Regions from separate parts of the Homo sapiens genome. Here regions 1 and 2 are each linked to region 3. Evidence: fine-mapped expression QTL. A gene starts in region 3. Each other region holds a variant in brackets. All regions are shown on one strand. Distances are from middle to middle. Region 1 has its middle 18 kb from the start of PSG9. Region 2 has its middle 9.8 kb from the start of LINC03078. Region 3 holds the start of CD177 (CD177 molecule).

Region 1 (7,875 bases), 66 kb after region 3:
TTAGAACAGTATTTAATTAGTAAGGATACTTTAAGAACAGAGTTAACCAGGACCACTTTTCTGAGGGTAAATGCTTTAGCACGTATCTGGCAACTGGCACATTCCCTCTGTTAAAGAAAGCTTGCTCAAAGGCAACTGTTACAGTTTCTCGAGAGATCCATTTTTCAGGAAGCCAGGCAGATCACAGGCAGATAAGCTAATGTTGCATGGGTAAAGTGTGGCTAATCCCATCACTTCATTTATCTAGTTCCATGGCTTACAGGGCCACACCTACAACCATGGGCAGCACATTTAACATAGTGCCGGGACTCAGGAACCAAGGAGAGAAAACAGTTGGGGGGACGCTCCCACTGTCTTCCACTCCACTCTGGGTCTCAATGAAATAAGGAGGACTATAAGGACACTTTTATTCTCACTTCTTTTTCTCAATGGCTAACAGAGCATCTTCAGCTTGCACCCCTCTGGAGCGCACTCTGAGGCACTAGAACTCTTTTAACCTCAGGACTTTCAAGAGAAAAGCAACTCATTCTATTTTGCAAAATGACAGGGCATTTTTACTAAACCTTTACAAGCATTGTAACAGCAACCCAGATTTTTTAACAGCCATATCAGGCAGGCTTATAAAGAATAATATCCTAGAATTAGAAAAGCAACTTCCAAGGGAACCATCTGAGAATCTCCATAATTTGGGGTCCCTCCAAGTTCCCTTCTCATTACAGGACCTTAGGCAAATAAAGTAAGACTTAGGCCAATTTTCAGACAATCCTGACAGGTATATAGAAGCTTTCCAGAATTTAAGTCAGGTGTTTCACCTCACATGGAAGGATGTTATACTGCTCCTAATCCAAACCCTAACTGCAGCTGAAAAACAGGCAGCTCTGCAAGCAGCAGAGAATTTTGGAGATGAGCAACATATCTCCTATAATACACCAAAAGGGAAGGAAGGAGATACAGAAAGTGAAGAAATAGCAGAAACACCATTCCAAATAGTAAGTGAAGCAGTACCTCTTGACAACCCTGATTGAAACCCCAATAGCCCTGTAGATGAATGAAAAAGAAAAACTAAGGCCAGACCTCTTAATTCCTCTAAACTGTCTAGGATAGACTCAAAGCCAGATGAGAATCCTGCAGCCTTTATGGATAGGTTGAGAGGGGCACTATTAGCACACACCTTTTTATCTCCTGATTCAGTCAAGTGACAGCCCATTCCAAAAGATAAGTTTATTATACATAAAGCTCCCAATATTAGAAGGAACCTATAAAAGGCAAGCTATAGTAGCAGATAGCACCTTGGAAAACCTTCTGAGGGTAGCCACTTCAGTCTTTTATAATAGGGACTAGGAGAAGGCCCAGAAGAAAGAGAGAAAGCTCAAGAGAAGGACAAAGCCTCTAGTAGCTGCTTTGCAGAGTTGCAAAGTCCAGGATCCCAGAGGTGTATCCACTAGTTGCTCTCGGTGTGGCAAGCCAGGGCATTTGAGGAAGAAGTGTCCAAAGAGCAAGAGGAAGCCACCTTGACCCTGTCCAGCCTGTGGTGGAGACCACTGGAGATGCAACTGCTCCCAGAGATGGAGGTCACTGGGTTCAGAACCAGTCTCACAGTGGTCCAGCAGGACTGATGGGTCCTGGGGCTCAAACCCCTGGCTCCAGCAGCTCAAACTGCCATTACAGCACAGGAGACACAGGTCATTCTGGAAATTATAGGGAGGAAAGTAGACCTCCTTCTAAACACTAGATCTAGTCTCTCTCTTTTCTCCTTTCTTATCCAGGCCTCCCCTCTTCCCATAGCACAACCATAAGGGGTGTCTCAGGAAAAATTCTAATCCAATATTTTTCTCAGCCTCTTATTTGCAGTTAGGAGGACCTATTTTTTACATCTGCTTCCAAACCACTGTCACAATAGCTCTACTAATCAGAAAAGCCTCCAAATTAACCCTAGGAAAAAACGGTTTACACCCCCACTTAATGTGGCAAAATTACTTTCCTCTAGAGGGAGCTCTTAGCTAACAATCAGCTGGTAAAGCAAGAAATACGTAAGGTAGGATAAGCAGTAGTCACTCTAAATAATATCTCTCTTCAGGTGCAGGTGCTCAATCAGCTAAACAAACAGTTAATACAAGAGCACTTAAATTAAGCAAGGGAAAGGTAGCTAACATTTACACTGATTCCAAGTATGCTTTTTGAGTTCTTCATGCTCATGCTGCCATTTAAAATAAAAGGCATTTTCTTACCACTAATGGACTTCCTATAAAATATCACCAAAAAATTAACAGGTTATTATCGTCAGTTTTCTTTCATGAGAAATAGCAGTGATACATTATAGAGAACATCAAAAAGGGAACAGATGAAGTAGCCAAAAGAAATAGGTTCACTGATCAGGCAGCTAAGTCACTGGCAAGGCATCAACACACCTCAAAGCCTTCTAATCTAGGAAGACTCCATAAGATAAATTAAACCTCAGTACCTTCCTGCAGAAATAAAATAGGCCACTTCTCAGGGTATCCTTTCCAGTCCTCAGAATGGCTGTAGTCAGAGGATGGCAAACTCCGTTTGCCAGCCTTCAGCCAACGAGAAATCCTTAAAATCCTTCATCAAGCTTTTCACGTAGAAGAGGATAAAACTTATCAATGTGCTCACAGATGATTTTCATATAGAAAATCTCTAAATTGGTTAAGCATGTAACCTCTCTAGCTCACTTCCAACAGGACACATGTAGCAAAAGCCCAACCCCAGGAAATAAGACCACCCTTATTTAACCCAGATTTGGTATTAGTAGAAACTCTCTTCTCTCTCCCTCTATCTCTCTCCTTAAGTTAAGTGGTTAAAATGGCACATTATATATATACACACATATATATATATACACACACACACATACATATATATACATATACACATATACATACACACATATATATGTGTGTATATTTATAGACATATGTATCTACATGTCAAATTTATATGAATATATATTCACATCTAACAAATACAAGTATGTATGTGTTTCTATATACACACTCAACCACAATTTTTTGAAAAGTGTTTGGTGAAAAAAAAACCCGCTGTGTAAAACACACCCACCCTAATCACATAGCCCTCATACACTTCCATGCAGACCTCTCATGACATTATCTGCAGACAGGTTCAAGAAGTACCGTCCAGCAAACAGCACATGCACAACATAAATGTATTTGCAGAGACTCAGAGCTAACCTGGAGGCACGAACCTCGGCACTGCCAGGACACATACCCTTCCCCATGGATTCTGACTTTATCTGACCCAGCCCACTATCCAGATCTTGTTGTGGGGCTGGGGTAGAGAAAGTCACAAAGCCTGTTCCCTGGACACTCTGTGTGACACTCAAGACCACCCCCACCCCATCATTAGGTCTCCCCACACAG[G/T]TCTGACCATCATGCATCGTGAGGAGGACTCTAGCATAGGCTCAGAAACCATACAAAAGAATTAGCCACAGAGAGAAACACTGAGCTAGAGGAGCTGGTTGCTGACATGGAACAGGTTCCCTGTAGTTCAGGAGTCCAACTCGGTCTGAATTTCCCTCACTTCATAAGCCAGGCACCCCTGAGAAACAGCTTTTTCCCATGGTCTCCTCTGTGGTAACACATTAGGGTCCCTCGCTGTCAAGATTCTAGAGATGGAAGAAACCTGGACAGCACACATCCCAGCTTCACCCTTCCTCTCTTTCTCCCTCCCTGCCAGGAATCAGGGCTCAGGGCTCAGGAGGAAAGGCACAGCCCAGTGAGGCCAGAGTTGGTGAGATGTCTGAAAGGTGTTCAGTGAAAAAAGTGCATCCCTCTTTCATTCTACCTGATGAGCCCTGTCCTGCACAGCTTCCTCCACCCTGAGGACTTCCCCAGACACCCTCTCTAACAAAGCTGACTGCCCCGTTTCCTTTCTGCTCACACTTAGGCCTGTCCTGCCTTCTGGGAAATGTAAAATGCACCAAAATCAGCCAAAGCAGCCACCCCTGCCAGGATCCATAATAAGGCAATGTCCCTGGGTCACCAAGAGAATGAGCTTCCACTGTGTCGCAGTCCAGGGCTCTTTCCCTCTGAGAGGCTGACTCATGAAACAGGCCACCAGAAAGAGATCAGTGACTCCTCCATCCATTCTTATAATCACCTGACAGGTTCTTGCCCTCTGCGCAGGCAAAGCCAATTTATTGTGAAGGTGATGTGTAGTAAAAAATGGTTTTGCTTAGCCCAAGGCTGCCAAACAGGAGGATAGAAGTTTATTATGACTCAAATCAGCTTCCCCAGTGGCTCAGAGGTTAGAGTTTTTCAAAAACTTTGAGGGGCAAAGTTCTAAGGAATAAGTACTGTTGACTGGCTAAAGATGAAATGATGCCGGTAGGGGAAATGGTCTGTATTTGTTGAATCTGCCTCTGAGTGGGGGGCCACATGACTGGTTGAGCCATTGGTCATGAGTCTAGATGAGGTCAGCTGGTTGCCGGAATGCAAAAATCTGAGAAACATCTCCAAAGACAAATCTCAGATTCTACAATAGTGTTGCTATCTATAGGAGCAACTAGGAAAGTCACAAATCTTGTGACCTCTGGACACATGACTCCTGAGCAGTAAGGGATTATAGAAACTATGCCTGCATTTTAGCAGAATTTGGGCTCCTGCATAATTCATGGTCTTTTCTTAGATTTACCACGGTAGTCCCCGACAAGGAGGGAGCTAATTTTAGGGAGGGACTATTATCATCCTTGCGTCAAAGTTAAACTATAAATTCCTTCCATGCTTACCCTGGCCTATGCCCAAGAATCAGAGAGGACACCCAGCCTGAGGCTAGAGGTGAGATGGGGTCAGCCAAGCTAGCTTCCTCTCACCATCATATGCTTTGCAAAGGTGGTTTCACTTTCTACATAGACTCACCAGGTGGTCAGACGCTGAAGGACAGACCTGCAGTTTCCAAAGCCCATGGGCTCATTTCACCCATTTCACTCATGACTCCATCCTCAACCTGCTGTGGGGCTCATATCCTCCAGTCATGCCCTAGAGACTTCGAATTTCCGCCAGGCATGTAAGTAGCTTAAAAATTTTCACTCAGTTCTAACAACAAGTAAAAAGCTGAACAAACTGAAAAAACAACAACTCATTTAGATTTGTCAGAGAAGCAAGGTCTCAGTGCTAACTGGCCCACATATTGAAGAGACCCACAGGCAAATACAGAGCAGCGCACCGTACCTGAGCAGAAACACAGGCACAGAAACCTCAGCGGGAACCAGTGCTGGGGTCAGAAAACCTCAACTCTAATTGAGGAAATTCTGGAGGCTCAGTGTGGACACAGCGCAGAGATAAACACACCAGTGGATGAATTAGCCTTGGGAGTAGGGGGACAGTTTTATGACTCTTAGCTCCTGGAGCTCTACCAGGTTCTCACAGTCAATATCCAAAAAGAATCCCTGCATCCTTCTTGTAGGAGAGAAGGGAAAAAAACACTTGGAAAGTTGTCAGTGAATTATATTCTTCTTGGTAAGACCTACATTTAAGAGGAACTATTTTACTGCAGCCTAATTAGCTGGGGTTTGATGGGAGCTTAACTGGCCAGGGGGAGGGGAAATATCCAACTCCAGCCTCCTCAAGTCATCATATCCCACCTAATGGAAAGAAAAACCTGAGAGGCACTTGTGACATTCACAGCCCAGGACACAGATCTCATCCAGAACCACAGAACCCTTCCCTCCCCTCACTCACCACCATGTCACTGAATGCCTGCTCACTCAAGTCCCTTTTACCCAGTACATCATGTGTGGTTTTCAAAAAAATACAAGACAGACTATGGCAAAAAAAAAAAAAAAAATAATGCAGTTTGAAAAACAGAGCAAGGATCAGAACCAGACACAGATGTGGTAGGGATGTTGAAATTATCAGACTGAAAATTTAAAACAACTCTGGTTAAGGATTATGATGGAAAAAGGAGACACCTTTCAGGAATAGATGGGTGATTTAAACAGAGAGATGGCTATTCTAAGAAAGAAGCAAAAGAAATGCTAGAGATTAAAAACACTTTAAGCGAAATAAAGAATGCCCTGCATGGGCTTACTGGTAGGCTGCCCACAGCTGAGGAAAGAATCTCTAGCTTAAGTGTGTGTCAATAGGAACTTCCAAAACTGAAACAGCAAAGTTTAACAAGAGTGAGAAAAAGTGGAACAACATATTCAGCTTCATATTCAATATTTGGTATTGACAATAGCATATTTTATATTCTGAAGTTGTATTTTATATTTTGTAGCCTACAAAGGCTGTAACATACACATAATGGGAATACTGGTGGTTCCTAGGACCAGGTGGAGCTGGCCAGGTGGGTGCTGTTTGATTTACTGCCTGTTTCATGCACACCTGTGTACTCATAATAACAACAGTGTCATAAGGTGGGGTCCTTCGGGTGGGGAGATGCATGAGCCACTGCTGCCTCACTTAGACTCTGCCCAATTTAAACAAAGTTAATCAAACTCTAATTATATGACCCTGCTCAATTCACAGTTCACCAGTATTGCTGCTTGATTCACAGTTCAGAAGTCTGTGCATCTCCCACACAGAGCAGGTGGCCCCATGGTCTCTGAGCCCTCAGATCATCATGCATCCATCTGTCTTTTGACACACAGAACTGCTGTGGGCTTTTAAGGACTTGGATTGGCTGAGAGGTGGGAGATGTCAACTCTGATTGGAAAATGCTCGTGGAGAAATCAATGGTGCCACACAGGGGAATCTTCTCTGTTATCTGCACAGTGAATCTGCCCAAGCCCTATGTCACCAGCAACCCCGCGGAGGATGAGGAGGCTGTGGTCTTAACCTGTGAACCTGAGACTCATGGCACAATCTACATGTGGTGGGTAAATAGTCATAGACTCACACTCAGTCCCAGGCTAAAGATGTCCAATGATAACAGGGTCCTTGCTCTACTCAGTGTCACAAGGAGTGACACAGGACTCTATGAATGTCAAAGGAAGAATGTAGTGAGTACCAGCCACAGTGACCCAGTCACCTGGATGTTCTCTGTGAGTATCCTCTTTTCCTTCATGGACAAGGCTGCCAGCCCAAATCCACATAACACGAGGCCAGGCCTCTCAGTCCCTCTCAGGTCCAAGTATGAAGACACTTACCCCTGGACCCCCAAGCTGGCCATGACTTTCTGTCCCAGGCAAACCTGGGTAGGCCCAGGAAGGGAGGGGCTTCTCCGGTCTTAGGGGACTCTGGTTCCATAGCTTGCGATGGGAGAACACGTGAATGTCTTAGACTCCTCCAGTTCAGTGAACACAGAAGAAATTTGGCTGGGACTTCAGGGTTGTGACTTGGCAAAAAGGAACATTGTGTCCCTTTCACAGACCAGGAGCTTCCCATTCCCTCTGATAACATTACCTGTGGCTTTATTCTCTTTGCTCCAGATGGCCCAGATGAACCCACAACTTATTCTTCAGACACCTATTACTATGCAGGGTCAAACCTCAACCTCTCCTGCCTCATGGGCTCTAACCCATCAGCAGAGTATTCTTGGCTGCTGAATGGGAATAACCAGCAAACAGGACAAGAGCTCTTTATCCCCCAAGTCACTACAGAGAATAGTGGGGACTATCTGTGTTATGTCCATAACCCAGTCACTAATGGCAAAAACTTCGCAACCAAGAAAATCACAGTCCCTGGTAAGTGGATCGCTGGAGCATTGGCAATATGCTTTCAGGTGAAGCCTATCTGGCTTTCCAAGAAAGAGCCAGGAAAACATTTTTATTCTCAGCCTGTGTCCCATGCACAAAAGTAAATCCCAAATTTTTCTCCTGAACACTCCCAATTCATATCTACAGATTCTCTTCCCTTTGTTTTCCAGATTTCTGGTGGATGACCTTGGGTCCAGCCT
Region 2 (7,875 bases), 32 kb after region 3:
CCTCATGTCTGTGTGCAGCGGCTGCCGCTGCTTTAATACTTTTAGAGGCCCTGAAAATCACAAACTATGCTCAACTCACTCTCTACATTTCTCAACTTCCAAAATCTATTTTCTTCCTCATACCTGACGCATACACTTTCTGCTCCCCGGCTCCTTCAGCTGTACTCACTCTTTGTTAAGTCCCACAATTACCACTGTTCCTGGCCCGGACTTCAATCTGGCCTCCCACATTATTCCTGATACCACACCTGACCCCCATGACTGTATCTCTCTGATCCACCTGCTATTCACCCCATTTCCCTGTATTTCCTTCTTTCCTATTCCTCACCCTGATCACGCTTGATTTATTGATGGCAGTTCCACCAGGCCTAATCGCCACATACCAGCAAATGCAGGCTATGCTATAGTACAAGCCACTAGCCTGCCTCTCAGAACCTCTCATTTCCTTTCCATCGTGGAAATCTATCCTCAAGAAAATAACTTCTCAGTGTTCCATCTGCTATTCTACTACTCCTCAGGGATTATTCAGGCCCCCTCCCTTCCCTACACATCAAGCTCGAGAATTTGCCCCCACCCAGGACTGGCAAATTAGCTTTACTCAACATGCCCGAGTCAGGAAACTAAAATACCTCTTAGTCTAAATAGACACTTTCACTGAATAAGTAAAGGCCTTTCCTACAGGGTCTGAGAAGGCCACCACAGTCATTTCTTCCCTTCTGTCAGACATAATTCCTCAGTTTAGCCTTCCCACCTCTATACAGTCTGATAGCAGACCAGCCTTTATTAGTCAAATCAGCCAATTAGTTTTTCAGGCTCTTAGTATTCAGTGAAACCTTTATATCCCTTACGGTCCTCCGTCTTCAAGAAAAGTAGAACGGACTAAAGGTCTTTTAAAAACACACCTCACCAAGCTCAGCCACCAACTTAAAAAGGACTGGACAATACTTTTACCACTTTCACTTCTCAGAATTCAGGCCTGTCCTCAGAATGCTACAAGGTACAGCCCATTTAAGCTCCTGTATAGATGCTCCTTTTTATTAGGCCCCAGTCTCATTCCAGACACTGGACCAACTTAGACTGTGCCCCCAAGAAAACTTGTCATCCCTACTATTTTCTGTCTAGTCATATTCCTATTCTCCATTCTCAACTACTCACACATGCCCTGCTCTTGTTCACACTGCCAGTTTACACTGTTTCTCCAAGCCATCACAGCTGATATCTCCTCGTGCTATCCCCAAACTGCCACTCTTAACTCTTGAAGTAAATAAATAATCTTTGCTGGCAGGACTATGCTGAATCTCCTTAGGCACTCTCTAATCAGATGTCCTAGGTCCTCCCAATTCTTAGACCTTTTATACCTGTTTTTCTCCTTCTTATTCCATTTAGTTTTTCAATTCACACAAAACTGTATCCAGGCCATCACCAATCATACTATATGACAAATGTTTCTTCTAACAACCCCACAATATCACCCCTTACCACAAGATCTCCTTTCAGCTTAATCTCTCCCACTCTAGGTTCCCACCCGCCCCTAATCCCGCTTGAAGCAGCCCTGAGAAACATCGCCCATTCTCTCTCCATACCACCCCCCAAAAATTTTCGCCACCCCAACACTTCAACACTATTTTGTTTTATTTTTCTTATTAATATAAGAAGGCAGGAATGTCAGTCCTCTGAGCCCAAGCCAAGCCATCGCATCCCCTGTGACTTGCACGTATACGCCCAGATGGCCTGAAGTTACTGAAGAATCACAAAAGAAGTGAAAAGGCCCTGCCCCGCCTTAACTGATGACATTCCACCATTGTGATTTGTTCCTGCCCCACCTTAACTGAGTGATTAACCCTGTGAATTTCCTTCTCCTGGCTCAGAAGCTCCCCCACTGAGCACCTTGTGACCCCCGCCCCTGCCCACCAGAGAACAACCCCCTTTGACTGTAATTTTCCATTACCTTCCCAAATCCTATAAAATGGCCCCATCCCTATCTCCCTTTGCTGACTCTCTTTTCGGACTCAGCCCACCTGCACCCAGGTGAAATAAACAACCATGTTGCTCACACAAAGCCTGTTTGGTGGTCTCTTCACACGGACACGTATGAAAAGAAAGACATGAGATTTGAGAGAAACCAGGGAAAGAATGATATGTTTTGGATTTATATTCCCACTCAAATCTCATGTCAAGTTGTAATCTCCAAAGTTGTAGGTGGAGCCTGGTTGAAGGTGATTGGATTATGGGGATGGTTTCTCATGGTTTAACACCATTCCTCTTGGTGCTTTCCTAGTGACAGTGAGTTCTCAGGTGATCTGGTTAAGAGTGTGTAACCCTTGCTGTCTTCCTCCTGCTCTCACCTGTGAGATGCCTTGTTCTGCCTTGGCCTTCCACAATGATTGTAAGTTTCCCGAGGCCTCCTCAAAAGCTGAGCAAATGTGAGAGTCATGCCAAACCATGAGCCAATTCAACCTCTTTTCTTTATAAATTACCCAGTCTCAGGTATTTCTCAGTAGCAATGTGAGAACAAACAAATACAGCATTATTTTCAGGAGAGAAAAAACAGGAAGTAAGCAATTCTAACTAGTTACCAGGTGTAAAGCCCAAGATAAACAGCAAAGCTATGAAGATTATACCTGGAGAATCTAATCTCTTCCAGCATGGCCAAAAGGCACAGCTGTGGGATGGGATGAGTTTTGTCCCCAGTTCTTGCTATGGTCGCTCATCTAGAACTCAGAATCTAAAGGCTCAAATCTAAAGATATAAGGTCACAGAAAAATTAAGAAAATGTATATATACAGAAGCAACCATATGATGACCCTAAAACATCTAGTAAATACAATATAAAAATGTCTGCCAACAGACCCAGGCACAAATGTCTAAATTAAATCTGAAGACATTTCTACTTCATTTTACCAATAATTTTTAAACTATCTTTATTTACCAAAGATTACTAAAATCACATGTATTGAAAAGCATTTGGGATTATTTACTTAATTTATGAGTACTTATTTTTACATTAATTTGATACCATGTATGTAAACAACATATAATCATATGTATGGACATAGACATATATGTGATACAGCATATAACATACACATGTGCACATAAAGATAGAGGGAGGCAGAAAGAGTTTAGAGTTTTGATTTCAGCATAGGACCGATCAAATTCAGTATTTAAAAAAGACAGTTGGATTAAATTTGTGCCTTTGTAAATGGAAGAGGTTAACATTTAATTAAGCCAGACTTTATTGAGTTTTAGAGAAAATTGGTAGCAAATTTACATCTCAAAGCACAGAGAGAAAGAGAACTAAAGCTTTTACAAGAAGGAATTTGTGTGTGTTCAAGGAAGATTAAAAATAGATGCCAAGGTAACACAAAAATGACAGAAATTTACCATAGGATTTTATAAGGAGACCAATTTTATTTAGATAGGCAGCTTTTAATTTGGTCTCTGTTTTCCAACTGGACCACTGAGCTCAGGACAGAGCCCATTAAGGAAGAGGACCAACGAAGTCTTGCAACTTTTAGATCCTAATAATTTAAATACATAAAAAGAAGACCCAGTTGCAAGGGACAGCATCCAGACCTTTATAAATCAAGGATTTCACTGAATCCCAGGTCCCTGAGAAGAGGAAAATGCCAATGGAACCATACTATGCAACACTTCCACAGTGTACTTTGCTATAAGGGCATTTTTCTAATTATTTAAACTGTGTATTTCTTATCTAAACTTGCAAAGAAATGAGTAGCATTCTGAAGTAATAATCATTTATTGCGAGCGCTGTTAGTCACCTCCAAAACCAAAGCTCTTACCAGTGACCCAGCAGCCATCACACATATAAGGTCAAGCATTTTTACAGTGCAAAGTAATCTCTGATGCCCCCAAAAGCCAAAGAGGTCAGGGAAAATGGAAAAGAGAGCAGAGTTTTAGACCTGAGAGGAATCCATTTACTTACAACTCTTGGGGTTCCATGAGGAAAAACAGTGGTTTCTCCTAAATAGGGAAGTCTGTGGCATCTTTTCTGTTTTCCTTAAGGGGTTCCAGGCTGTCAGAAATTCTTTAGGTTCCCTCATGTGGCATCAAGAATAGCAAGAGGAAGGATGGAAAGAGAAATAAGCAGAAAAAGAATTTTTAAGAAAAAAACCAGACAGACTAAGCACATGATTTAAAAAGATTTCAGTCAACTGAAAAAAAATCTTTCAAAGATACAAAAGAGATGGCCAGAGGCAGTGGCTCACATCTGTAATGGCAGCACTTTGGGAGACTGAGGCGGG[C/G]AGATTACTCAAGGCCAGGAGTTCAAGACCAGCAACATGGCGAAACCCAGTCTCTAGTAAAAATACAAAAATCAGTCAGGTGTGGTGGCACGTGCCTGTAATCTCAGCTGCTCAAGAGGCTGAGGCCCAAGAATCCCTTGAACCCAGGAGGTGGAGGTTGCAGCGAGCTGAGATTGTGCCACTGCACTTAAGCCTGGGTGACAGAGTGACAGCCTGTCTCAAAAAAAAAAAAAGATACAAAAGAGAAAAGCAGAAAAGCCTTCAATATACATTCAAGTCCTTTCTCAATATATATCCAATATGAATTTATATATTCTGTGTATATACATATTCTATATATATATAATATTTTATATATATATTATTTTAATATATACATGGCTTAATATTATAAATATTAATAATTATATGGCTTAAATACCATTAATAAATATATGGCTTAAATACCAGTTTTTAATTAAGCTGACTCTTAATCACAGAGCTGTTTTGGGAAATCCTTCTCTTAGCTGCCAAACATAGCTGAGAAATGACACCAAAGCATGTTAGCAGCAGTGAATCTGTAGACGTCTTCAGCAACCTCAATTCTTGCCTCTTTAGAAGAAGTAATTTGACTAAGAGGCATAAGGCAGAAGAAGGGACTGAGGTAAGTGTTAGAGCAGGAGTAAAAGTTTATTTAAAAGCTTTAAGGCAGGAATTAAAGGAAGTAAAGTACAATTAAAAGAGAGTCAAGCAGGCTGGATACAGTGACTCACACTTGTAATCCTAGCACTTTGGGAGGCCGAGATGGGTAGATCACCTGAGGTCAGGAGTTTGAGACCAACCTGGCCAACATGGTGAAATTTCGTCTCTACCAAAAATACAAAAATTAGCTGGGTGTGGTAGCATGTGCCTGTAGTCCCAGCTACTAGGGAGGCTGAGGCGGGAGGATCATTTGAACCTGGGAGGCGAAGGTTGCAGTGATCTGAGATCATGCCACTGCACTCTAGCCTGGGTGACAGAGCAAGACTCTGTTGCAAAAAAATAAATAAATAAAAATAAAAAAATAAAAAAGCCAAGCAGGCAACAAGAGATCAAGTGCATTGCTTGACCTCTGACTTAGGCTTTTGTATGTTGGCATAATTCTGGGGTCTGCATCTCCTCTCCCCTTATTTTCCCTTTGGAGTGGGCTGTCTGCATGTGCAGTGGCCTGCTAGCACTTGGGGTGGGGTGAACATGCGCAGTGTATTTACTGGAGTTGTATGCATGCTCACTTGAGGTGTTCTTCTCTTTCCAGTCAAATGTCCCTGGGAGGTCACAAACCAGTTAAACTCCACCATTTTGCCTCTTAATGCACATGTTTTAGCCCACTCACCCAACTTCTGAGAACTTATCAGGAAGGAGCTGATCAACTGTTTCAGGTGTTTCCTGTCTATTGGGAGACTGCCTTTCCCTGGTGCTAGCTACAACCCATTATTATTTTAGAGAGACAGTTAACGACCACCTGACAATCACCTGATGGTCATGACATTCCTGGTGTGTGGGGGAAGGAGGCTCCCTCCTGTCCTGCTGATGTCTGACTAGCTACCCACTGTAATACTTTCAGATTTTTTATTATCAGATTTTAGCTAGGACAAACAGCTGATATTTCTGGCTTTTGAATTTTTTTTTAACCAAAAGTATCCTCCCAGCTGAAACTGATAAGCACTAACCATAATTGTGACTTAGCCAAGGATGCATGAGACATCTCCAAAGATGTAAATGAGTACCACAAAAACTCAAAAATCACACAAATATCAAAACAAAAGTGGCAGAGGCATTTGAAGTAGAGTGACTCCATCTTGAGTGAGGGCTGGGAAAATGAGGCTGGGACTTGTTGGGCTGCATTTCCAGAAAGTGAGGCATTCCTAGCCTCTAGATGTTTATGGTTAAGGGAACAAATCAATAATATTTACTAAACAGACCCAGACTTGGGAGTGTCCAGATATCCCAATATCTGGAAAACAAAGTGATTCCTAATTTTGCTTTAAAGATAATAACTTAGATTCTTGCAAAATATCACAATTAAGAAAATTAATCCTTATCACAAACCTTTGTAGCAGGGTACATCTCCCCATATATATGAGCACTGTACCTAGGGTGGGTGTGTGCCTCCTCTTACTTTCAAGAACATCCTACTGTGACTATGGAGTAGCTGTACTTTCACTACTTTACTTTCTTAATAAACTTGCTTTTACTTTGCGCTGCAGACTTGCCCTGAATTCTTTCTCGTGCAAGATCCAAGAATCCTCTCTTTGGGCATGGATTGGGACCTTTTTCCTGTAACAAAAGCGGTTCATTCTCTGACTTGTAATTGAATCCAGGCTGCAACAGTGAAAGTGTGGAATTTTAACTACTGGATGACATGGTGAAGTGGCTTTAATCCTTATTGCCTCAGGAGATCTAAAGCAAGTCATTTGAGATTACAAAAAACTTAACTTTGTTTAAGGCTAGATTTTTGCTCTGTAAGTTAGTCAAGAGAATATTTAAGGCTAGCCGTGACACTATTATGTGTCTTTCTTTAAAATTTGATTCTCCTCAAACTATCTTGGCAAAATTATGACTGAGACAGTGAAAGAGATCTAACCTAACCTAATGAACACCGTCTTGCTTCTAACCTCCAAGCTGTCCTTGTTCGGTCCTGGGCATAGGCTGAACTAACTTTAATAGGAATTTAGTTTACAGTTTAAAACAAAGACGATAACAGCCCTTTCCCAAAACGAACCTCCTTCTTGCCTGGGGACAAGACTGCCTTTGTGGGACTAACAAATTAGCCACAAGATTAGAAATTACGGTTTAAGAGTCATGCAGCTGGAGGCTACAAGATTCTGACCCTCTCTAAACTGCTCCTGAGATCTGTCTGAGCTATTTGGCAGACCCTGCACTTGATGGATGGATGAGCTGGCCCCACCCAGATCGATAAAATGGGTCATTTGATCTTGTGACCTCTACTCAGGAACTGACTCAGCAAAAAAGGACAGCTTCAACTTCCCATGATTTCATCTCCTACCTAACCAATCAGCACTCATGCTACATCAGCTGACATTAAAATTACTTAGATATACAATTTGAATGAACGTCATGGTCTAAGTCAAATTACCTATGATAACCCATCAGTTATCAGTGCTATGCACATAATTTGAAGAAAAACTATGATTCAAGAGGATATGAGTCTAATATTAATTAAGCATGGACTCATGGAGAACCAGGATGGCCACCTTGTCCTTCCTAAGTCCTTAAAGCTTTTATTATTAAAAGTTCTGCATTCCATGACTCATCATGGAAAAGATAAAAATATTCAAATGGAATATATTGGTGTGGTGACTTATAAATTGTTAAAAGAATTTATAACCAATGTTTGGCCCCATATTCCTGGGAAAACAATCAAAGCTTCAGGTACACTTGGTCACCTGCTGGTCCATTTAAACATTTTATAATGAGATTTCATTCAATTGTTATTTTCAATGCATATTTTCTGGTTCTGGTTGTATAAAAGCTCTCCCATGCAAGAGGGCTCATGTTATCTACTAAGTTATTATGTTACAGTGTATTTTCACCAGATAAAGAAAACTTTCTATAGTTCACTAAAGATAAT
Region 3 (7,875 bases):
CACACTGTTCCCTCTGCCACCAATGTCCTCTTCCTCTTCTACCAATAAGCTGTAGGTCATCTTTAACACACGGTTCACAGGCCACCTCCTCTGTAAAGCCCTCCTTGACTCTCTACCCCAACAACATCAGTATTTTCCTCCTCTGAGCTGCCCCAGGCCCCACATCCCCGTTTGCCACAGCCCTGATCACCTCAAGCTGTGACCATCTGTGTCTGTAGCACCTCCCCCTCCTAGTCCTGGAGGCCCTTCAGGTAGAAACAGGGTCTGACTCATGAGGGAGCTTTGCTCAAGTGAGCCCTGCATGTCCTCACTTGAGCAAACACCTCCTGGTACCCTTCCTGAGCCGTCTCCTGAGCTACCCAAGGCTGGAAACCCTGGTGCCAGTGGTACCAAGCCCCTAGCCTCAGGCTCCCAGCCTAGCTAGGGAGAAACAGCCAAATACACAGAGGAATGTGTGCAGAGCTCACACAACTCTCTCTTCTAAGCTCTAAGGGTTAGCGTGATGTGGGCAGACAAGGAAACTGAGGCAGGGGCAGGGAAGACTTTGCTTCTAGGAGGGAAGCTGGGATTCCTATAAGACCCCCACCTCCCCACCATGGCTTCCTGTTGCTTTGGAGCCCTTCTTATGGAGACATTCCCTGGCACTCTCTTCCATGGCAGCACCTAAATGGGTAAGTGGGGACCCTCTCAGTGTCCTCCTTTAACTCTTGCTTTCTCTGTCACACCCAAAGTCCCCTTGATTTTCTCTCTGATGTTCTCTCCTGTGCAGGCAAGGCTGCTGGGGCACTCCAGCACCATGAGCGGGGCGGGGGCTGATACGGGTGGGAGAGAGGCTACGGTGGCCTAGGGAAGTGGGAGACCTAGGGTTACCCAAGGCCAGGGGTGTGGAGACACAGAAATTGAAGCAACCAGTCACTCTCAGCAGCTTGAGAGCCAGCAGGGGCCCCAGCACTCACTGTTGCCTAAAGCCACATGCCAAGCAACCCACCCTGCACCCTTGACCTTCCTCCTGCTGGCTTTGGTGTGATGGCTCTGGATGCCCCATGTGTCATCGTGCCCCGAGGCTGCAGTCCAGGGCACAGCCTAGGGGCAGGACTCACCTTTCATATCGCAGTTCTCAGTCATACCCACGGGCCCAATTTCCTGTGTCCCATTGAGCAGGTTGCAAACTGGCTGGGGCATGCATCCCTGGACTCTCAGATTGGAGAAGATGCCTCCTGCAGAAAGGGGGAGCGAGGGAGAGTCAGTGATGCTGCCTCCAGGACCACCCAACCCTCAGAGGCAGGCATAGCTCCAGGAAGCCAGGCCCACCCTCCTCTGGGTCTCATGCCGTGCCTCAGCTCACCTCACTCCCCAAAGCCTAAGATCTCAGTCCCCAGACCTTCCAGTTCAGTCCCCACAGGGACCCCGATGTCCCAGGCTTACCTCCCCTGAGCCTGAGGAGGCCATCATAACAGTGTGTGGTCCCCTTGGGGCAGATCTCTTCTGTTGTCCCCTCCAGACAGCCTTCCATAGACAAGCAGACTGGGCACCTCAAGGATCCTGGGTCTAGGAAAGTGACAGACAGAGTGAGGGGGCACTGAGAGGGCACTGGATTTGATCAGATACCTTCTCTGCACCCCACTTTTGCTGGCCTCAAGAGTCAACCTGCTCAGCCTTCCCAAAGGGGCCTTCTGCAGCTCCCATCATGGGATCTGGATGTGGGAAAATAAAGAAGTGTAATCCATAAAAGAGGAAGGGAGAATGAACAGGAGGTCTGGGTAGAGGCACCCAGGGCTGGGTACAGAAAGTGGTCTTGGCTGGGTGTGGTGACTCACACCTGTAATCCCAGCACTTTGGGAGGCTGAGGCAGGTGGATCACGAGGTCAGGAGTTCAAGACCAGCCTGGGCAACATAGTGAAACCCTGTCTCTACTAAAAATACAAAAATTAGCCGGGCGTGGTGGCAGGCTCCTCTAGTCCCTGCTACGTGGGAGGCTGACGCAGGAGAATCGCTTGAACCCGGGAGTCGGAGGTTGCAGTGAGCCGAGATTGCGCCACTGCACTCCAGCCTGGTCGACACAGCGAGACGCTTTCTCAGAAAAAAAAAAAAAAAAAAAAAAAAAGAAAAGAAAAGGGGGGGTGTCTTGGGTGGCAAGTGGGGGTGGGGGGTGGGCAGGGTGGAGGAGGGGCCTGCTGAGGCCAAATGTAGACTCAGACATGGTCAAGTCTGAACCTTTCAACAAAGTCTGGCCTTCCGAGGGGAGACACAGAAGCAGACTCATTGGTCAAGGGAATGAGGGGGTGCCCTGGAACGAGCCAGTGCCTTCACCTGCAAGCGCTACTAAACCTCCAAGAACAGGAGACTTCTGTGTTCACAAGCTGTTCCAATAAAAGAAGCGCAAAATATCTCCCTAGACTCTTTATAACACCAGACAAGGAAAGTGGAAAGTTACAGTTCAGTCTCCCTTAGGAAGAGGAAATAGCAAAAACCCTGCAGGAGAACTTCTTGAACCAAACGCAACAGAATAAAAAAAGAATGCAGGATAACCCAGTTAATGGTGATTTCATATCAGAAATCCGTCCTGTTTGCTCTTAGAAGAGGAGGGGTGCGGGGATTCCCGGGTGGCAGGTCGGTGGGAGGGATCGGGAGTGAGTGGGGAGGGATGGAAAGGGAGCGGGGCGGGGCGATGGTCAGGGAGCAGTCAGGGGAGGGATGGAGCCAGCGAGGGTCGGGATAGCGAGCGAGGGTGGGAGGGACTCCGTAACAGCCCCTCTGTGCTCAGCGGATCCCCTTCTAGCAGCCCCTCCCTCTCCTCCCGACCCTCCCGCAGGCACCTGCTGGGGGCTGTGGGGCCCAAAGCGGGAGGGAGTTAACGAGGTTGTTGCAGAAGTCCTCCTGGCGGCACACGAAGGTGTAGGAGATCAGGGAGAGGCCGGGGCCCATCCGGTGCTCAGTGACGCGGGGCTCCTGGTCCTTGGCCTCCGTGCAGCCCTTGGAGAGCACCAGGCTCACTTGGGGTCCTGGACCGAAAGAGGGAGGCAAGCGAGGATGGAGGTCAGGCCTCCAGGGTCCTGGAGGGAGACGCTGCTACACGGCGTAGGCTGAGAGGCTGGAAAGGGGATCACCGGGACCCTAGGAGTCGATCCCCCGGAGGGGTGGCTCCCGGGTCCCTGCACAGGGATCAAGGGACTGAGGGGACAGGGCGGGGTCTCTGCACGCCAGGGCCTTCTCACCGCTCTCAATGAGCATCAACGTGTCCTGGCACCCCAAGCCGCTGTCGCAGCTGGTGTTCTTAGGGGTCCATTGCCGGGGCAGGTCGGACACCTTCCACACATGCTGAACTGTCCCAAACTGGCAGAGCAGCGCCTGCACTCCTGGAGTGGCAAGAGCAAATCCATCTCAGCAGGGTTCCCTTGCCCGGCCTCCAGGGAATCTCCTCCAGGCTGGGCTCATCACTCACCTGGCAGTGGGAGGATGAACCCCAGGAGGGCCAGCAGTAATACCGCGCTCATGACCCGTCTGTGGCTGGTAATCTCTTTCTGCTTTTTCAGCAGGAAACAAGTCCTTTATACCAGCCCTTAAGCAGCCAGCCCAGAAAAGGGTGGGGAGGGGAGGGCCTTGCAAAATGGAGGCTTGGGCCCCACCCCAAGTCTCAATGGCCGCAGTGGCCTATCAGGGACCCCCTTTCTTCCTCAGACCTTCGGGTCCAGGCATCCAGCCCCTCCTCCCTCAGATGGAGGGTCCAGGACCCCCAGCCCCTCAGCCCCTCCTCCTTCAGACCCAGGAGTCCAGACCCCCAGCCCCTCCGCCCTCAGACCCAGGAGTCCAGGCCCCCAGTCCCTCCTCCCTCAGACCCAGGAGTCCAGGCCCCCAGTGCCTCCTCCCTCAGACCCAGGAGTCCAGCCCCCCAGCCCCTCCTCCCTCAGACCCAGGAGTCCAGGCCCCAGGCCTCCCTCTCTCAGACCCAGGAGTCCAGGCCCCGAGGCCCTCCTCCCTCCGACCCAGGAGTCCAGACCCCCAGGCCCTCCTCCCTCAGACCCAGGAGTCCAGGCCCCCAGGCCCTCCATAGTTAGAAACTGTGGCATCTTGACCCGAGGTTCCCCCGGTCCAGACTCCCAGCCCTCTTTCCTCCTGAGCCCAGCTATGTGGATCACCACCCCCACCCTCTTTCTCCAGTAGTTTGGGAAGGCAGTTTCCTCATTTCTCATGGGCTCCCTGGCCACCTCTGTACCCCAGATGGGGAAATGGCCCAACTACCTGTGAGGACGTTGTGCAGTGGGCATCAGCTTGTCCCCATGTCTTCCGGTCCTAGTTTCTACCCTCCACTGTCTTCCCACTTCTCTGTTCTTTCTCTTTCCTTCTTATATTGCTTTCTTTTGATTCTTCTTTTCATGCTTTTCTCTCATGCTTTCTCTTCTATTCTCTACCCTCACAGTACAACATAGGACTCAAGTCCCCAGTTTCCTACCACCAGGAAAGGCTTGGCCAGAGGTGGAGTAGAGACTGAATATCTATGAAAGAATTAGGATATATCTGAAAAATGCAACATTTATTTGCTGGAAGCCGATGGGAGAGCAGTGTTGTGCTGAAAAACCAAGTTTTCTGAAAAACAATACCCACAAATCCTGCCTCGTAGTGTTGGCCTATTTCTCTGGTGTAAATACTCATAGCATGTCTGATTTTAAGCTACCTACAGTTTGCCAACCAGGCTGATGAAATCCCTAGCTATTTAACCATGGGCTTGTCCAGGGCTGTACAAATCAGCTGTAACACACTGGGGTGGCGGGGAGGAAGACAGGAAGGAACCTGGGGTATCTGTCAGTGACTGCAGAGGGACGTTGTGGGTGTCTGTGACGGAGAGAGGAGAAGCAGAAGAGGGAAGGCGAGAGCAGGAATAGCAGAGAAAGAGAAATGAATGTGACTTGCAATTATATGTTTATTTTTGACATCTCTATAAATTTTATCTTTATTTGTCTTTGCAAGTTTATTGCAAGTTTAATATTTGCCACACAGACAGGGAAGTGTTTGTCTGATCTCCTGCTATGTCTCCACCACCTACATGGCATACAGTACATGCCCAGTAATTTTTTTTTTTTTTTAGAAACAGAGTCTTGCTCTCACCTATGCTGGAGTACAGTGGTGCAGTTGTAGCTCACTGCAGGTCACTACAGCCTCCATCTCCTGGACTCAAGCAACTCTCCCACCTCAGCCTCCCGAGTAACTGGGACTACAGGTGCACACCACCATGTCTGGTTAATTTTTGTATTTTCAATAGAGACAGGGTTTCACTATGTTGTTCAGGCTGGTCTCAAACTCCTGACCTGCGGTGTTTTCATTTTGAAAAATTTCAGGCTGGGAGCGGTGACTCATACCAGTCATCCTAGCACTTTGGGAAGCCAAGGCGGGTGGATCTATTGAAGTCAGGAGATTGAAACCAACCTGGACAACACGGTGAAACCCCATCTCTACTTAAAAAAAAAATACAAAAATTAGCCCGGTGTAGTGGCAGCCACCTGTAGTCCCAGCTACTCCGGAGACTGAGACAGGAGAATCGCTTGAACCCAAGAGGCAGAGGTTGCAGTGAGCCGAGATCGCACCACTGCACTCCAGCCTGGGCAACAGAGTAAGACTCCATCTCAAAAAAAAAGACGGAAAAATTTCAAACCGGCAGAAAAGTTGCAAGGATAGTACAGTGAACACAAGTATCCCCTTCACTGGATTCACCCACTCTTCACATTTTATTGTATCTGTTTATACACACACAACATATGCTTTTAAAATATTCTTAAATTTTAAAAACAAGGAGTAGACATTGTAACTCTCACCACTAAGTGCTTCAGCAAGAACCTTCTTAAGATTATTCTTAAGGGGGCTGGGCACAGTGACTCACACCTGTAATCCCAGCACTTTGGAAGGATCACTTTAAGTCAGGAGTTCAAGACCAGCCTGGCCAACATGGTGAAACCCCATCTCTACTAAAAATATAAAAATTAGCTGGACATGGTGACACACAACTGTAATCCCAGCTACTTGGGAGGCTGAGGCAGGAGAATCACTTGAAGCTGGTGGTGGAGGTTGCAGCAGTGAGCCGAGATCACACCACTGCACTCCAGCCTGGGTGACAGAGCCAGGCTCCATCACAAAAAATAAATAAATAAAAAAATTTTTAAAAAGCATATATCATTCTTTTTTTTCCTCTCTCTCTCTTTTTTTTTAGATGCAGTTTTGCTCTCTCACCCAAGCTGGAGTGAAGTGTCGTGATCTCTGCTCACTGCAACCTCCGCCCTCCAGGTTCAAGCAATTCTCCTGTCCCAGCCTCCCGAGTAGCTGGGATTACAGGCGCCTGCCACCACGTCCGGCTAATTTTTGTATTTATAGTAGAGACAGGGTTTCACCATGTTGACCAGGCTGGTCCTGAGCTCTTGACCTCAGGTGATCCACCTGCCTCGGCCTCCCAAAGTGCTAGGATTACAGGTGTGAGCCACCACGCCCAGCCTATATAGATTATTCTTAAGGACTTTGTCCTGCGTAACCACAGACCAGGATCAGACCCGTGTAGTTTACACAGATGCACTGTTGTCTAATAGGAAGCCCATTTCCAGTTTTCCTCTGTTGTCCCAATGACATCTCTCATTGCGTTTTTGCTTTCTGATCAGGAGAACATCCGGGGTCAAGCATGAACTGCACTGCGTTGTCTTTATGAAAGAGAAACAAAAACTCAGGACCCCAATTCACTGTGACAGAAGGAAAAAAAAAAAACTGGAAGCTGAGTCATGCAAGAAACTGCCTTTCCTTTTGTTCCTAAGCAGACAGCTACAGAGAAAAGGTTAAGTATCTCCGTAGGTAGCTACTCTATGTTCATCTTATCTTTCTTTAAAAAAATTTTTACTTATTTATTTTTTTTTGAGAGAGTATCATACTTTGTCTCCCAAGCTGGGGCGCAGTGGCACGATCTTGGCTCACTGCGACCTCTGTCTCCCGGGCTCAAGTCATTCTGTCACCTCAGCCTCCCGTGTAGCTGGGACTACAGGCACCCACCACCGCGCCCAGCTAATTTTTGTGGTTTTTTTTGTAGAGATGGGTTTTGCCATGTTGTCCATGCTGGTCTCAAGTTCCTGGGCTCATGAGATCCTCCCACCTCAGCCTTTCAAAGTGCTGGGATTACAGGTGTGAGCCACCACGCCCGGCCATATTCACCTTATCTTTCTCAAGGTGCCAATTTACTGAGCGTGAGATGAATACGTGATTGATTATTCCCCTACCTCCTGCTTTCTCTTACACCATGTGGATTCAGTAATGCGACCACACCCTCCTTCTTTCACCGCCAGCCAGCTTTTCCACCCTAAATATTGAAGTCCTCAAAATTATCTTTGGAAAAAGGCACAGACCACAGACTGTTTCTATGATTGCATGGTTTTTTCTATGTCCTTAACCTTGGCAAAATAAGCTTCTAAGTTGATGGAGACCTGTCTCAGATACCTTTTGGTTTACATCTCATCTCTGGACTCCCCTTTAATCTAGGAGTGCTCCCCACCTGCCTTTCATTTTCTTTAATGTCATTGAAAGCAATGGTTCACTTCTTTTTTTTTTGTAAAGTCTTCCACCACCTGGATGTGTCTGACTCAGACTATGATTAGAGTAGTTTTAATGATTTTTGGCAATATTCTTCTAGCTGGGTGTCGTGTGTCACATTCAGAAGGCCTTTAATGCCTGTTTGTCAAATTCTTGGCTAATTAACAACTGCTGTGTGAGGTAAGCCATGGAGGAGGCTGTGTGAATGTCCTATTCCCCACCACGAGACCCTTCTGTCTCCTTGCACACATTGTGCCCAAGCTACTTCCAGAAAATCCTCTGTGATCACGGCAAATCACATGATGCTTTTGGTCCAGCTCC

Evidence for each region. PIP is the estimated chance that this variant, and not a neighbour inherited with it, causes the effect.
Region 1: its variant is fine-mapped to the expression of CD177 in whole blood (TOPMed, PIP 0.96).
Region 2: its variant is fine-mapped to the expression of CD177 in whole blood (INTERVAL, PIP above 0.99).

What each region holds. Positions count from the first base shown.
Region 1 is chr19:43,283,224-43,291,098 of GRCh38, reverse strand. It overlaps the pseudogene CEACAMP11. Among named protein-coding and RNA genes, the nearest start is that of PSG9, 18 kb to the right of the region's middle. The variant G/T (reference allele first, on the strand shown) is at 3,399.
Region 2 is chr19:43,317,733-43,325,607 of GRCh38, reverse strand. No RefSeq gene overlaps it. Among named protein-coding and RNA genes, the nearest start is that of LINC03078, 9.8 kb to the left of the region's middle. The variant C/G (reference allele first, on the strand shown) is at 4,266.
Region 3 is chr19:43,349,334-43,357,208 of GRCh38, reverse strand. CD177 (CD177 molecule) reads right to left here and starts at 3,523. Exons shown (of 9, transcript NM_020406.4): 1 at 3,443-3,523; 2 at 3,216-3,356; 3 at 2,817-3,002; 4 at 1,426-1,548; 5 at 1,101-1,217. The coding sequence starts at 3,494. PRG1 (p53-responsive gene 1) reads right to left here. Exons shown (of 1, transcript NR_026881.1): 1 at 7,661-7,875.